2 separate regions of the Homo sapiens genome follow, and region 2 is linked to region 1. The links come from fine-mapping of genetic effects on gene expression. A gene starts in region 1. The other region holds a variant in brackets. All regions are shown on one strand. Distances are between the middles of the regions.

Region 1 (2,913 bases):
TATAGTCCCCCGGAAACACAAATAAACAGGATTGGGTTGGAAGCCCTGGGCCACTTCAAAGAAAAAAATCAAGTCAATGGTAATAGTAAGAAATGAAAACAGGCAGGGTAGCTTGCTGTCTGTGTTTAAAACTATTAAACCCGGTAGGTAAAGCCCATTTGGCTTTAAGGTTTTATTAGGCTCTCACAGACCCCATCTCCACCCCCACACACATTGCTAATCACAGTAGACCCCAGCTGTGATTCCCATCCACCCCCAGGAAAGGAGAGGGGGCTTCCCACTGTGAAAGAAAATGCCTTCTCAGACAAGAACTATGCTCCAGTCCTGACTTTCAGCAAGGCAAGCAGGGAGCTTCCTCCATGCTGGGAAAATGGCATACAGTACTTCACCTGCTAGGTACATTAAATTTGTCAACTCTGCTTCACGTCGCGAGTGTAGGGAATGTGTTTGCTTTTTAGATTTCAAATCGGATTAAAATAATTAAGTTTTCTAAACAACAATGCCATGCTTAAACCAAAGGACACGCCCTAGAACAAGAGCTAACAAGAACTAGCCTGACCGGTAAAGTAGACTGAAATATCTATTGAAAACGTTAACTGCTAAAACTGCCTGAAAGGGCTTTTTTAAATGAGAAAGTTTTTTCAGCTATATCAAGTTGAACGAATCCACTGATATTAGGGAAGGCACGTTATTTCAATATTTATATTTTAATCATAAGAAGAAACGAGAAGGAAGAGAAATGGGAAGAAATTTCAGGTCTCCAAGAAACTTTGTTCATTATATTTACTCATCTAAACTTGCAATGCTTGAAATAATCTTTCGTACGTAACCGACAAAACCCAGGAAAAAAACTATACAGTTTGAACTACGGCCTTTTTTTTTTTTCTGTTTCTGAGCTTGGTGTTGGCCACCCAAAGCTACTGCTGCTGCATTTGGTTCAGGTCGGATGCATGAGCCCGAGCTCGTCCTAAACAGGCATTCTGAAAAGCACTGGCTCCCCCGACCCTGTGAGGGCCCATCACGCGCGGCGGCTTTTGCAGGCCGCGGCCCCGAGGGCTTCCTGGAGGCGGCGACGGCGGCGGCGGCGGGCACTCACCGTACTCCATGAGGCTCTGACAGCCCTCCTCGTAGGACCCGCTGCCGCCGCCCTCTTGGGAGCATTTCCACCACAGCGAGGACGTCTGGCCGTGGTCGCTAGACTGCAACCAGCCGCGGCCGGCCAGCGCGATGATGTCGAAGGCGATGGCGCTGAGTAGGAGCAGGGGCAGGATCCAGCGGCAGCGCTCGCAGGCCAGGCCGCAGCGGATCATGTTGACGGGCGGCGCGGGGCCGAGCGGAGCGGAGCGGAGCGGGTCGGAGGAGCGCGCGGGACGGGCGACAGCAGAGAGTGGCCTGCGAGCGCGGGCGCCGCCACAAAAGCGAAGAGGCCGCGGGGAGGCGGCTCCCGAGGACGCCGCTCCGGGCGGCCCCACCTAGATTCCGGTGACTCAGAGCGCGCCCGCCCCGACCTGCCCTGCCGGGCCGGGGCGGGCGGGGCCGCTGGTAAACAGGCTGGGTTCTGGTGACACCGGGCGGCGGCGGAAGGCGGCCCGAGGGTCCCGCGCGTCCCACAACCCTCCAGTCCCGCTCTCCTGGCCTCTCCAGGCGCGTGTTTTGTCTTCCTGGCGCACCAACATATACACTTGTTTATCTGCACAGCGCCAGCCTAATATCTGACCCCTGATGTCGCATCGTGGGGCGGTGGTCAGCAGTGCCATATCTGAGTTTTCAGCAGTGTGAGATGGGTGTTCTAATTGCACCTGTGGATAAAGGCTGCACTCCTTTGGACGCGTGCACCCAAACCCAGAAGCCCGTCCCTGACCCCTGCTGACACAGGTGATCCCTTCCTCCTAGGCTCCGCCTTTGCACCTTGGACCGTGGCTCCCCGGGTACTCTTATCTCTTTGCATGCTGTTCTTTCCTGCTGGGTTGCCAGATTTTGGAAAGCGGAGGCGATGCTGAATTTATCTGTGTATCCTTAGTGTCCGGCACCGTGTTTGGATCTCAAGGGGAGCTCAGTGAATTTGATGAATGAACATGTAATTTAACAAATGCTCGCTTCCTTTCGGAAAGGCTTCATCTGGCTTCCCCAGATAATTTCATGTCGCCTCTGCTGCAGTCCACTTCCTATCACGAATCTCTACCTATTTAAACTGCACTCTCTCTACTCTTCATTTACTATTTTGAGGTTTTTCCAAATAAAAATCATACGTCAGCATGCAACCTGCATTTAGGATCCCCCCTTCGGTGTCCTGGGCTAGCTCCCGTCGCAGTTCTGACTCCTAAGATGTGACAGGAAGGGTGGGGTGGCAGCCAGGTGTGCCGCTGAGGACAAAGGAGTTCTCAGTGTCAGGCACCTCGGTGGCCTTGGGAAAATCACTGAAACATCGTATGGGGGTCATGTCTTAACCCTGTACCTCCAAAGATTTCTTCTGAATCCCCTATTTTTTCTGTTAATTTAATATAAAAGTGGGAACTACTTAAAAATATTTTAAATTGTATTCCAATTTGATATTCTCAATAGAAACAGAATACTCTTTTGACTTATGCCATTTTCTGGCAATTCTTGAGGACGAATAAAAGCATGGAGAAAGTATCTGAAAATACATGAAATAATTTCCCTAGCCTTCATTTTACATAATTCAAGTTTTACATAAACCACGTCATATATTTTTATTACAGGAAAATATTTTCACTTTCAAAGAACACAAGAGGGTGTTCTGCCAAAAGTTAATTTTGTATCGTGGAAGCTGTGTGAAGAAAATGGTGATATTTATGTTCTCAGGGTTTTCAAAAGTAATGAAGATATTTGTTTAATTAGCTATGTATAATATATTTGTGAGAAAAAAAAATTCTTATAAGTCAAATACTGACC
Region 2 (2,913 bases), 96 kb before region 1:
TGGGACCACCCTATAATGGAATATTTTTACAACCATATTTTTAGAGAATATATTATTTTACTAGTGGCATAATAACTAAAGAAAAAAGTCAGCCCGGCATGGTGGCTCACGCCTGTAATCCCAGCACTTTGGGAGGCCAAGGCAGGTGGATCACGAGGTCAGGAGATCGAGACCATCTTGGCTAACACGGTGAAACCCCGTCTCTACTAAATATACAAAAAAAAAGTCAGCTGGGCGTGGTGGCGGGCGCCTGTAGTCCCAGCTACTCAGGAGGCTAAGGCAGGAGAATGGCGTGAACCCAGGAGGTGGAGTTTGCAGTGAGCCGAGATCGCACCACAGCACTCCAGCCTGGGTGACAGAGTGAGACTCTGTCTCAAAAAAAAAAAAGAAAAGAAAAAGAAAAAAATTACAATATAAAACCTCAACCTTTTAGGAAAAAAAAATGCATAGAGAAAAAGACTACAAAATTTTATGAAATTGTGACTGTGGTTCTTGCTAGGTAGGGAAAATACCATTAATTTTTATTTTTTAATTAATTATTTTCCAGATTTTTAAGTAACCATTTTTATCATCAGGGAAAATGTTACTTAAAATCTAAAAATGGCAGCCACAGTGGGGGCTAGCCTAGAAGCAAAGAAATCAGCTCCCAAAAACTGTCTGTTTTGCTTCTGGGCCTTTGTGCTGTGTAACCTAGAGTTGGAAAGTAATATTCTTAGGACATTCTCAAATCTTGCTCTTCCTTCCCACCAAAAGCATTGCTATGGGCCTGGCATGGTGGCTCATGCCTGTAATCCCAGCACTTTGGGAGGCCGAGGCAGACAGATCACTTGAGGTCAGGAGTTCGAGACCAGCCTGGCCAACCCGGTGAAACTCTGTCTCTACTAAAAATACAAAAATTAGCCAGCATGGTAGTGAGTGCCTATAAGCCCAGCTACTCAGGAGGCTGAGGCAGGAGAATTGCTTGAACCCAGGAGGTGAAAATTAGAATGAGCGGAGATCATACCACTGCACCCAAGCCTGGGCAACGGAGCAAGACTCCATCTCAAAAAAAAAAAAAAAAACAAAAACAAAAACAAAAAAACATAGCTATGGTGCTATTCCCCCATAAAGCATGTGTTGATTCTCTGGAGTCCCACCCTGGCATTCGTAGCCTTAACATTCCTCGGTGGGTTTTGACTCTGCTGCCTTCTTTAGCCCAGCATTTCCCACTACCTTGGGTGAGCCCCTTTCCACCCTCCTTGGGGGTAAGAATTCATATATTTTTGATAACCCTGGGAGCAACATGATGAGTGTTTGTGTTCCACGTCTGTCACAATCCCTGCCACGACTACTGTTCCAGCCATGGTTTGGGTCATGGGACTCTTCATTACCAAACA[C/T]GGTGGACTGGGTTGGACAATTGCTCAAGAGCAGTTATTCAGTGGAGTGGCATTTTCAAACTGAGCCAGGTCCATCCATTTCTTGCCCTTGGGGACTTGAATTGGGAAGTACAGAGAGAACCAGACAGTAGGAGCTAAAGTTGGAGTGATGTTTAGATGAAGGTAGGAGGTCATGTTGTGATCACAGCAAGTCATGGCCAAGCAGCAATGAGAAGGCAGAAACTATGAGTAGGCAGATTCAGTGATGTATGCAGGAAAAACATATGCTGAGTAAAGGGGTAAATGAGATGTACTGAGAGGCAAACAGAGCAGACCCCCCCCAGAAAATAGCAGACTCCTATAAATGGAGGAGAATTAGAGTGAAGTTTCAGAAACTCCAGGAGTTGAGGTTCTTAGAGACCGCTGCCTTGACAGAATACTGGCTGGTCTACTGTTTCTTATTTTGCGTTTTGGTTCATCTCCCTGTATGCTATGTGTTTCCTTAAACTAAGATACCCTACCTCCCTTTGTACTTCCGTTAACCTAGGTTACAAACGTCTCTGTTTCTTAAAGTCAGAAAGACTGAACTTGAATTGATTGGTCCATCTATTTACTTGTATATTCCCTTATTCATTCTTTCATATATTCTATAAAATATAGTGAAATTGTGCCAATATTCTATGCACTAGGAACAAGATGATATATGGTACAATACCTGCCCTTAATGATTATTCAGTATTAGCCCTTATGATGGTGATAGAGAGAAAAATATGAGTGACATTTAGAAGGATAGAATGGGTACAATTGAATATGGGGGGTGGGTGAAGAGAATATAAGGAGGGAGCAGGAGGAGAAATTTAAGATTATGCTTCAGGCTTTGCCTGGGTCATTTAGAGAATGACAATGTCATTCTCAGAAATAAAGAATTCTGGGGCTGGGTGCAGTGGCTCACGCTTGTAACCCCAGCACTTTGCGAGGCTGAGGCAGGCAGATTGCTTGGGTCCAGGAGTTCCAGACCAGCCTGGGAAACATGGCAAAATCCCATCTCTACAAAAATAAAAATAAAAACTAAAAAATAAATTAGATGTGGTGGCACACACCTGTAGTCTCAGCTACTTGGGAGGTTGAGGTGGGAGGATTCCTTAAGCCCCTGGGAAGCAGAGGTTGCAGTGGGCTGAGATTGCACCACTGCACTTCAGCCTGGGTGACAGATTGACACCATATCTCAAAAAAAGAAAGAAAGAAGAAATTCTGGAATAAGGAATGCTGAGTTTAAGGACATCCAGGCCGGGGTGTCCATTATATGCAGCTGAGGAAAGAGATTGTAAACATACATTTCAGAACAATAAATATCACTAGTACTATTTGCATCTATGGCTTTTACAAAGAAAAGAAGGCTGAGAACAGAGTTCTGGGCAACACCAACATTTAAGTGGAGGCCAGAGAATGAGATTTCCTGGAAGGGGGCCAAGTAGGTGTGATCCAAGTAGCAAGAGAAGAACCAGGAAGTAATATGTCATAGAAGCCAAAGAGTACAAAGAGAAAAATATAGGCCGAA

What was found. PIP is the estimated chance that this variant, and not a neighbour inherited with it, causes the effect. A credible set is the group of variants that fine-mapping cannot tell apart.
Region 2: its variant is the best candidate, but not a certain one, in a credible set for the expression of PERP in subcutaneous fat (GTEx, PIP 0.76).

The regions. Positions count from the first base shown.
Region 1 is chr6:138,106,031-138,108,943 of GRCh38, forward strand. PERP (p53 apoptosis effector related to PMP22) reads right to left here and starts at 1,389. Exons shown (of 3, transcript NM_022121.5): 1 at 1,097-1,389. The coding sequence starts at 1,310. RefSeq lists a silencer at 1,518-1,567.
Region 2 is chr6:138,010,020-138,012,932 of GRCh38, forward strand. No RefSeq gene overlaps it. Among named protein-coding and RNA genes, the nearest start is that of SIMALR, 66 kb to the left of the region's middle. The variant C/T (reference allele first, on the strand shown) is at 1,377.